Linked DNA regions of Homo sapiens. The protein of the gene in region 1 interacts with the protein of each later gene in a pairwise test. Each region holds a gene or a part of one and is shown on either strand. Other genes may lie near its edges.

Region 1 (3,655 bases):
AGGTCAGGAGTTTGAGACTATCCTGACCAACATGGTGAAACCCTGTCTCTACTAAACATACACAAGACATACCCTGTCTCTACTAAACCCTGTCTCTACTAAACATACACAAGACATACTCTGTCTCTACCAAACATACACAAGTTAGCCGGGCATGGTGGCACGTGCCTAGGCATGGTGGCGGGCGCCTGTAGTCCCAGCTACTCGGGAGGCTGAGGCGGGAGAATGGCGTGAACCTGGGAGGTGGAGCTTGCAGTGCGCAGAGATCGTACGACTGCACTCTAGCCTGGGATACAGAGACTCCGTCTCAAAAAAAAAAAAAAAAAAAGTCTGCTATCCTCCTACACCCAGTATGGACTTGAGGAATGAAAAATATGACCTGAAGGCCAGAGTTCATCTTTGAACTTTTCTAAGTTTTTTTTTTTTTTTTTTTTTGAAACAAGATCTCACTCTGTTTCCCAGGCTGGAGTATAGTGGCGTGATCACGGATCATTACAGCCTGGACCTTCCAGCTTCAATTGATCCTCCTGCCTCAGTCTCACAAGTAGCTGGGACCACTGGCGCACGCCACCACACCTGGCTAATTTTTGTATTTTTTTGTAGAGACAGGGTTTTGTCATGTTGCCCAGGCTGGTCCCAAACTCCTAGTCTCAGGCAAGCCTCCTACCTCAGGCTCCCAAAGTGCTACAATTACAGGCATGAGCCACTATGCCTGGCCTATTTTTTTTCTTTTTCTTTTTCTTTTTTTTTTTTTTTGAGATGGAGTCTCACTCTGTTGCCCAGGCTGGAGTGCAGTAGCGCAATCTCGGCTCACTGCAAGCTCTGCCTCCCGGGTTCATGCCATTCTCCTGCCTCAGCCTCCCAAGTAGCTGGGACTACAGGAACCCTCCACCACGCCAGGATAATTTTTTTTGTATTTTTAGTAGAGATGGTGTTTCACCATGTTAGCCAGGATGGTCTTGATCTCTTGACCTCGTGATCCACCCGCCTTGGCCTTCCAAAGTGCTGGGATTACAGGCGTGAGCCACCGCACCCCGCCTTTTTTCTTTTCTTTTTTTTTTTTTTGAGACAGGGTCTTACTCTATCACCCGTGCTGGCATACAGTCGTGCTATCTAGGCTCACTGCAGCCATGACCTTCCAGGATCAAGGATCCTCCTACCTCAGCCTTCTGAGTAGCTGGGACCGTAGGCATGAGCCATCATGTTCAGGTAATTTTTTTGTAAATATGGAGTTTCCCCATGTTGCGCAGGCTAGTCTCGAATGCCTGAGCTCAAATGTTCCACCTGCCTTGGCCTCCCAAAGTCCTGGGATTCCACACCCAGCTTTTTTATTTTCATTAACACACCTGACATGGATATCTTTGAACTTTTCTGATGAAGCTATCTGGGAATGCTAACCTAAGAAGATGCTGAGTCCAGGGCTACCAGTAGCCATCTTGCCACCTAATCTATCTCAACAATGAAACCAATAACTGAGAAATGGAGAGGCAAAGCCCCATGTTTGGGACACTAGATTGAGTCAAAAATAATCAATCCTATGTGGGGGAGATGTTTGAAAAATAATAATAAATAATGTCAAGCAGAAAGATGCAGAATGTAGATGTTCCTAGATCTAGGTGATTCCAAATGCACTCCTAGACTTCCTAGTTACATGAACTAATTAATACTTCCCTCAGTCCCTTAAGCCAAACTGGGTTTTTCTTACGTAAATACCAAAAATTCCTAAATAATGTGACAATCCATTACATAAAACCATTTAATAATTTATTAGGCCAGGCGCAGTGGCTCCAAAAATTACGGAATTTTATACGTGAAAATAACCTCGGGCTGGGCACGGTGGCTCATGCCTGTAATCCCAGCATGTTGGGAGGCCAAGGCGGGTGGATCACCTGAGGTCACCTAGCCTGACCAACATGGTGAAACCCCGTCTCTACGAAAAATACAAAATTAGCCAGGCATGGTGGCGCGTGCCTGTAATCCCAGCTACTCAAGAGGCTGAGGCAGGAGAATCACTTGAACCTGGGGTTGCAGTGAGTCGAGATCACGCCATTGCACTCCAGCCTGGGCGACAAAAGCGAAACTCCATATTAAAAAAAAAAAAGACCTCAGCAATTTGGTCCAGAATGAGATTTACAGATAAAGACACTGAAGTCCACTGAGGAAAAGAGGCCCACCTGAGGGCACGCCACAATATTGGCAGGATCAGATCAGAATCTGTTGCCAAGAAGCTGCTCATAAAAATACTTTTTAAAAATTTTAATTTTTAAATAATTAATGTTCACAGAAGGTTGCAAAAATACATACAGGAAGGTCGCATGTACTTTTCACCCAGTCTCCCCCAATAGTAATGTCTTTCATAAATACAATAAAATAACAAAACCAGTAAATTGATATTGGTACAATCCACAGAGCTTATTCAGATTTCACCAGTTTTAAAGGCATTCATTTGTGCTTATGTATAGTTCTATGTAATTTTATCACATGTAGATTCATGTAAACACCACCACACTCAAGATACAAAGCTGTTCTATCACCACCAACCACCCCATGTCACACCTATATTTATAGCCTCACCACTTCCTCCCCCATCCCTCATCTCTAAGCTATTCTCCTTCTCTACAGTTCTGCTAATTCAGGAATGTTAAATAAATAAATCTTCACCCAGGCCGGGCCTGGTGGCTCACGCCTGTAATCCCAGAACTTTGGGAGGCCAAGTTGGGCAGATCACCTGAGAACAGGAGTTCGAGACCAGCCTGGCCAACATGGTGAAACCCCGTCTACTAAAAGTACAAAAATTAGCCAGGCATGGTGGCAGGCGCCTATAATCCCAGCTACTCGGGAGGCTGAGGCAGGAGAATCACTTGAACCTGGGAGGCGGAGGTTGCATTAAGCCGAGATTGCACCATTGCACTCCAGCCTGGGGGACAAGAATGAGACTTCGTCTCAAAAATAAATAAAGAAATAAATCTTCACCCAGCCCTAGATTCTGGTTATGTTTTAGTTCTAAAAGGCTTACAGTTTTTTTTTTATGTTTAAGTCCATGATCACGTTAATTTTTTTTTTTTTTTGAGATGGAGTCTTGCTCTGTCGCCCAGGCTGGTGTGCAGTGGCGCAATCTCAGCTCACTGCAAGCTCTGCCTCCCGCGTTCACATCATTCTCCTGCCTCAGCCTCCTGAGTAGCTGGGACTACAGGTGCCCGCCAACTCGCCTAATTTTTTTTTTTATTTTTAGTAGAGAAGGGGTTTGACCGTGTTAGCCAGAATGGTCTTGATCTCCTGACCTAGTGATCCACCCGCCTTGGCCTCCCAAAGTGCTGGGATTACAGGCGTGAGCCACTGCACCCGGCCAAGTTAATTTTTATATAAGGTATGACATTTAGGTGGAGGTTCCTTTTTTTCCTTAAGACGTTCAGTTGCTAAAAATATATATTTTAAAGTACCTAGACCTTTTCTGGCAACAACAACAACAACAAAATCAACATAAATATATATATTTATGTATATTTATAATATATATATTATTTATTTTGTTGTTATTATTTACTCAGTCTCTATATATACATATATTTTGAGACTGAGTCTTGCTCCGTTACCCAGGCTAGAGTACAATGGCATGATCTCAGCTCACTGCAACCTCCGTCTCCCGGGTTCAAGC
Region 2 (3,655 bases), on another chromosome or scaffold:
TTTTTTTTTAGTTACTGGTAATGAGTTTGTTCAGGCTAGTGTCTATATAAAGAGCACTAGACTAGGTCTAGATTCATGTGCTAGCTCTGCTTGTGGCTTTTTTTTTTTTTTTGAGACGGAGTTTTGCTCTTGTTGCCCAGGCTGGAGTGCAATGGTGCCATCTCGGCTTACTGCAACCTCTGCCTCCTGGGTTCAAGTGATTCTCCTGCCTCAGCCTCCCAAGTAGCTGGGATTACAGGCATGCGCCACCATGCCCAGCTAATTTTGTAATTTTTTTTAGTAGAGACAGGGTTTCACCGTGTAGGTCAGGCTGGTCTCGAACTCCTGACCTCAGATGATCTGCCTGCTTCAGCCACACAAAGTGCTGGGATTACAGGCGTGAGCCACTGTACCTGGCTGCTTGTGGCTTATTATAGGCAAATGACTGAGCCTGTGTGGGCATTTGTGCCTCATCTGTCAAATGAGGAGTTTGAACTCAGTAATCTCTAATATCCCTTCCAATCATAATAGGTTTATAATTAAAAGGAAATTTAACTTTGCTTGCAGAGCATTTCTAATATATGCAGTACCTCTTAAGTTCTTAGAAGTTGTATTCATTGGTCTATGTATTACTCATTATTAAAAAGAAGAACTGTTAATAGTTAAAGTCACATGGAAAATTAAAATATGACAACTGAAAAATAAATCTCATAAATTATTTAATAAAGTCTTTTGGTTGTGTGTGTATATTTTTTCCTAGTTTAAGTATAATTTTCAATTAAAACTATTAGAAAATATATAAAACTATCAAATAACTTGAGTTATTTTCAACATAAATTATGAATGGAGGAGTAATAGTAAACATACATGCAAAAATGTTTTTGTAGATAGCTATGTTAATTTTATTAGAATCATTTGGCCAAAATAAGAACATATTTATATTCTGCCTTTAATATCATTAAAATAATTTCAAATATTTTTCATATACCTACTATATACCAGAAACAGTGCTATGTGCTAGATTTTCAGTCTTTGGTGTTAAGGAGCTTATAGTCAAGTGAGGATAGATAAAATAAATAAGAAATTATAATTCACAGAAGTTTGCATTGCTTAAGATAGGGGATGCACCATGCAGAAAGGCTGCATAAAGGTCAAAGTAGATGAAGTACAAGAGATGAAGCTCAAGAGATGTAAATTGGAGAAGTAGAAAGGACCAGACCATAATGGCCCTACTAAACAGTGTTAAAGAGTTTATCCTTTTTCCTGAGGGTTATGGGAAGCCATGAAAGAATTTTAAGTGGTAAAAACATAACCAGATTTGTGCTTTAGGAAGACCTATATGTGGAGAATGGATTGGAAAAGAGTAAGACTGGTGGCAGGGAGACCACCTAGTAGATTTTTGCATTTATCTTGATGAGAGAAGAGGGTTATGTAACCTGAATGGGGGTTATGGTCATTGAAGCTGATTTGAGATGCTTAGGAGGTAGGAGCAACAGGAGTTGCTGATTATGTGCATATGAGGGGTAACGGAGATAAAGGGGTCAAGTAAGATAACCAAGTTTCCACCTTGGATGGTGGCAGCATTCACTGTGATAAGAAACAGAAAAGGAGCAAATTTAGAAGAAAAAGATGATAATTTCACTTTTGGATCTATTGAGTAACTCATCTCAATGGTACAGCCAAATGGAGCTGTCCAATGGGTAGATACATGAATTTGGACTTAAGAGAAAGATTTGATCTGGAGTTGTAGATTTGGAGATATTGGTACTTGTATGGTGATTGAAGTCATAAGACCATATGAGATCATCCAAGAAAAGTATATGTAGTAGAAAGAGAGGGTTTAGGACAGAACCCTAAAGCACAGCAATAATTAAGTAATGGCTAGAGGAAAAGAAATAGAGTAGGTAGAGAAAAAGGAGGAAAACCAGTGTGGGCAGGAATCCAAGGAAGGAGAGATCATTTATGAAGTAGGAGTGGGTCAACTGTGTCAGATTTTTCAAAAAAGTCAGGTAACATGAGAGCTGAAGAAACCACTGGATTGAACAACTGTGAGATCACTGGTGATCTTGGTGATGGTACTTTCACCGATATAACAAGGTTGCAATGAAGGTGAAGATAGAAGGGTATATTAGACTTACTGAAATAGAAAAGAGGGTTTTTTTAATAACAATCTTGGAAGGAGTTTACCTTTTAGAGACTGAGAATTTCAAATGCATAATGACTTACAAAGTAGTTTAGCCAGGAAGGACCCTGTAAGCCATTGGCTGCATACCAGTGTTTAATGGCATGGAGGTCAGAAACCTGCTATAAGGTATTCTAGGAGTTACGGAATAAACTCGATAACTTCTTGAATTGGCATCAAGCCTTCACTGAAGGTAAATGAAGGGAGTCTTAGAATTATTTAATGACTCTGAGCCAGAAAGCTGGCCTATAATTTTCATGGCCACCCTGACTCTTGTATGATAAATACACAAAGAAGCAGACAGCCTAGGCATTGCCTACAGACAGAATACTCATCACCAGAATACTCATCATCAGAATACACCAGAGGTATTGGTATGTGTTTTCTCTGCTTGTTGGAAGTCTGATAATATGATTTAAGAAACAAGGGTAAATTGCCACATTATTTTCTTCAGAAATATTTTGATAAAATATCAAAAATGTAGAAATATAACAGAGTTTTTGATGCAGGTATTTGCTATTCAAGTGTGAAATCAATTTAATTTTACATTTTTTAGTGATTAGCATGTCTTTTTCTAAAATTTCAAAAACAATATTAACTTTCTTTTTCTACAGCAGTCTTTCCCAAAGAAATTCCCCATGTCTCAGTCAGTGCCTCATATTTACATTCAAGTTAAAGAATTTATTTATGCCAGCCTTAAATTTTCAGAGTCACTACACCGGAGGTGAGTTTACTAATCACAAATGCATTTTTGTCATAACTTTTATGAAACATTAATACTTTATTTTTATGCCATAACTTTTTTTTCCTCAACTTTTATTTTAGATTCATGGGGTACATGTTTGTTATAGGGGCATATTGTGTAATGCTGAGATTTGGGGTATGCTTGAACGTGTCACCCAGGTAGCGAGCATAGTACCCAACAGGTAGTTTTTCAACCCCTGCCTCCCCTTCTTGTAGTCTCCAGTATCTGTTGTTTCCATTTTTACATCCATGTGTACCTAGTGTTTAGCTCCCACTTACAAGTGAAAACATGCAGTATTTGGTTTTCTGTTTCTGCATTAGTTTGCTTAGGATAATAGCCTCCAGCTGCATTCATGTTGCTGCAAAGGACATGATTTTGTTCTTTTTTATGGCTGTGTAGTATTCCATGGTGTTTATATACCACATTTTCTTTATCCAATCCAACATTGCTATCAATGGGGAGGTGCTACTGGAACTAGTAGTGGGTAGAGGCCAGGGGTGCTGCCATAGACACCTAGGTTGATTCTGTGTCTTTACTATTGTGAATAGTGCTGTAATGAACATATGGGTACATGTGTCTTTTTGGTAAAATGATTTATTTTCCTTTGAGTATATCCCCAATAATGGGACTGCTGGGTTGAATGGTAGTTCTTTGTGTTTGTTTTTGTTTTTGCTTTTGTTTTTATTTTGTTTTGAGACAGGAACTCACTCTGTTGCCCAGGCTGGAATGAAGTGGCACAATTATGGCTC
Region 3 (3,655 bases), on another chromosome or scaffold:
TCTTGGCTGTATTTCAGATTACTGCTTTTATGTTGGGGTTTTTATATTGATGGTCATCTAGCTTCCCTCCCCCGAGGCTCCAAATTCCAAAAGTTGAAAAATTAACTTTACTCTAAAATTTCTCCTCTCCCAACTTCTGGCAATACCAATCCCTCTCCACTCTTTTTCTCTGGCTCATCATCTCTGTGGTCATCTTTGCCTCCTCTGCCTATCTCCTGTATTATTAATCACCAGGTCCATTTCATTTTTCCTTCAACAGCTTTTATATCAACCCCATTTCAGTTGCTGCCACCCTGATCTGGGTCTCTATTAACTTTATGTTTGGATTAATAGAACAATATTCAAGTTTCTAGCAATTTAATCTCAGAACTGGCTTTTACTGAGTTGTAATGAGTAGATTGATCTTTTTATCTCTAAGATGGAAAGAACACCAATGTTATCAATGAGAACAAGAACATGCTCTGAAAACACTGAATAAATGAGAAACCTAATTCACATTCATTGTCCAGTATATCTTCCCTGTCAAGTTTTATATGTACTCCAATTCTCCTTCTTGTCATCTTCACAATTTAGTACCTGATTTCAAACTATTCTTTAACAGTTTCATGTGTATTAGTCTTGTTCCCCTAACTAGACTACAAAAAGTCAAGATTATAAAATAACCCCGTCTAGCACAGTTGATAGAGATACTAGAATTTATTTAATATTATAGAAAAGAAACATTGCAATAATTTGAACGTAAACTTCATTCTTTATTCATTAAAAAACTCAGACTACTTACAATATTTATTCCTATGGCTTCATTACAAACACCATAATGATTTTGCTAAGTTTTAATAGCCCAATCTTGTTCTGGCAAAGATCTGCATTTACCGCAATGTGATCTTATTAATTTAGACTAAATGAAGGACAAGAGTAAAGACCTGCCTAAATTAGTATACAGATAAATTAGAGAATATCTTTAAATAAGTATAAATTCTAAGAATAGATCAAAGCAAAAAGAAGGAGGCCAGTACAGTGGCTCATGCCTGTAATCCCAGCACTTTTGGGGGCTGAGGCAAGAGGATCACTTGAGCCCAGGAGTTTGAGACCAGCCTGGGCAACATGGCAGGACCCTGTCTCTAACTAAAATACAAAAATTAGCTGGGTGTGGTGGCACACATCTGTAGTCCCAGCTACTCAGGAGATTGAGGTGGGAGGAACGCTTGAGCCTGGGAGGCTGAGGCTGCAGTGAGCTGAGAAGGTGCACCACTACACTCCAGCCCAGGTGACAGAGTGAGACTCTGTCTCAACAAAAGGAAAAAACAAACGAGAAATAAATTAAGGGTTGTCTAATGAATGTTCCCTAACTTAATAAAAAAATGAGAATAATATTCAAATTGGTATATCAAATAGTAGTCCCAAGCAGTTAACTTTATTACATTGTATTGAGATCGGACAACAGTTCCCTCCCATAATTCTATTTATGATTAAATTGCTTATTATAGCCATTTCCCCCTAAGAATAGCACAATGATTAAATGTCAGCCCAGCCCCATTCCACATTGGGGAAATCCAAATAATCAAGAATTTAACAAATGTTATCTATTTTAGAATTTAATAGTCTCAATTCAAAGTCTCAAAATAAACTTTTTGTATTCTAAAAACAAAGACTCCTAGTTTCTCCATATTTTGGGGGTGAAAAAATTAGTCTTTGGTTGATATTTTCCAACTTTGAAATTATTCCAAAGGTACATTTTCTTAGAAAAGTTTAAGTAAAATGGCCGGGCGCGGTGGCTCACGCCTGTAATACCAGCCCTTTGGGAGGCCGAGGCGGGCGGATCATGAGGTCAGGAGATCGAGACCATCGTGGCTAACACGGTGAAACCTCATCTCTACTAAAAATACAAAAAATTAGCCGGGCATGGTGGCGGGCACCTGTAGTCCCAGCTACTAGGGAGGCTGAGGCAGGAGAATAGCGTGAACCCGGGAGGCGGAGCTTGCAGTGGGCCGAGATCGTGCCACTGCAGTCCAGCCTGGGCGAAAGAGCAAGACTCTGTCTCAAAAAAAAAATAAAGTTTGAGTAAAATAAGTTCAGCCACCTAAATTAAGTGAGGGGGGAAATCAGATACCATCTCTTTATGTCCTCTAAAGCAAAATAGTATCATATGTATCTAAGTTTAAAGACAAAAATGAAAAGGTTTTAGATGCTTTAATCTTCCCAACAGATATAAACTCTCTGGTGAAGTTTTGGCACGCACACAATTAGACACTAACTTAAAACTTGAGAAAGGCTTTAAAAAATACCCGTTTAAATAAGATGCATACGGAGAAAAAAAGTGATTATGTTCTTGTTCGAGACTTGAAAAAAAAAACTACACAAGAAATACATGTTGTGGGAGATTTAAGTATTAGCTGAAGACATGAGGACTCCATTCCTACTCATCTCTCCCCTCCACCGTCAACATCCCTCTCTGTCGAGTTCCCCACTGTCAGTAGAGCGGGCACAATCCCAGTTTCCATTTTGTGGCTTCTTTACATATACACAGGTAAGTTTCTGTGTAAGGGCAACTGTGTTTAAATGTAGCCACACCTATAAGTTGTTTTTAACTTGCTTTTTATTTTCCTTAAAAATATGTCATAGAGATACAGGAAGGTAAAATAATTGTTTAATTCATCTGTATGGATGTATTAGATTTATTCAACCATTCTCCATACTAACGGACATTTATGTCAGTAAGAATTGGTCACCTTGAAGGCAATGCTGCAATTTACATCCTTATCTATATTTGAAGTATAAATTAGAATTCTAGACAGCTTCCTGGTACTTAAAGACTTTTCTAATGAGTCAGTGGCAATATTAAAAAATGTAGTTTTTTTGATATTAATGAGTCAGTGGCGATATTAAGAAATGTAGTTTTTTTATATTAATGAGTTAGTGGCAATACTAAGAAATGTAGTTTTTTGATATTATAGAATAAAATGTATCAACATTTGGAAGATCTGCTTAACTCAGTGGAGCACTATTTTTCAGGTGACCAGTGCATGATGTTACAAAATCAGGGATGAGTAAGAGATCTATTGAAAGTGAAAGAGTCCCTCTCCCTCTCCCGTCTCCCTCTCCCGTCTCCCGTCTCCCTCTCCCTCTCCCGTCTCCCTCTCCCTCTCCCGTCTCCCTCTCCCTCTCCCGTCTCCCTCTCCCGTCTCCCTCTCCCTCTCCCGTCTCCCTCTCCCTCTCCCGTCTCCCTCTCCCTCTCCCGTCTCCCTCTCCCTCTCCTTTCCACGGTCTCCCTCTCATGCCGGGCCAAAGCTGGACTGTACTGCTGCCATCTCGGCTCGCTGCAGCCTCCCTGCCTGATTCTCCTGCCTCAGCCTGCCGAGTGCCTGCGATTGCAGGCGCGCGCCGCCACGCCTGACTGGTTTTTGTGTTTTTTTGGTGGGGACGGGGTTTCGCTGTGTTGGCCGGACTGGTCTCCAGCTCCTAGCCGCGAGTGATCCGCCAGCCTCGGCCTCCCGAGGTGCCGGGATTGCAGACGGAGTCTCATTCACTCAGTGCTCAATGGTGCCCAGGCTGGAGTGCAGTGGCGTGATCTCGGCTCGCTACGGCCTCCACCTCCCAGCCGCCTGCCTTGGCCCCCCAAAGTGCGGAGATTGCAGCCTCTGCCCGGCCGCCACCC

Evidence for each region.
Region 2: the proteins of GLE1 (region 1) and EXOC6 interact in binary tests that used the Homo sapiens proteins (3 or more experiments, as listed by UniProt).
Region 3: the proteins of GLE1 (region 1) and SPRED2 interact in binary tests that used the Homo sapiens proteins (3 or more experiments, as listed by UniProt).

Annotation. Positions count from the first base shown.
Region 1 is NC_000009.12:128,511,119-128,514,773, reverse strand, and holds part of GLE1 (mRNA export factor GLE1), read right to left. Parts: intron 1-3,655. UniProt on the Homo sapiens protein: Required for the export of mRNAs containing poly(A) tails from the nucleus into the cytoplasm. May be involved in the terminal step of the mRNA transport through the nuclear pore complex (NPC).
Region 2 is NC_000010.11:92,949,498-92,953,152, forward strand, and holds part of EXOC6 (exocyst complex component 6), read left to right. Parts: intron 1-2,775; coding exon 2,776-2,885; intron 2,886-3,655. UniProt on the Homo sapiens protein: Component of the exocyst complex involved in the docking of exocytic vesicles with fusion sites on the plasma membrane.
Region 3 is NC_000002.12:65,335,067-65,338,721, forward strand, and holds part of SPRED2 (sprouty-related, EVH1 domain-containing protein 2), read right to left. Parts: intron 1-3,655. UniProt on the Homo sapiens protein: Negatively regulates Ras signaling pathways and downstream activation of MAP kinases. Recruits and translocates NF1 to the cell membrane, thereby enabling NF1-dependent hydrolysis of active GTP-bound Ras to inactive GDP-bound Ras.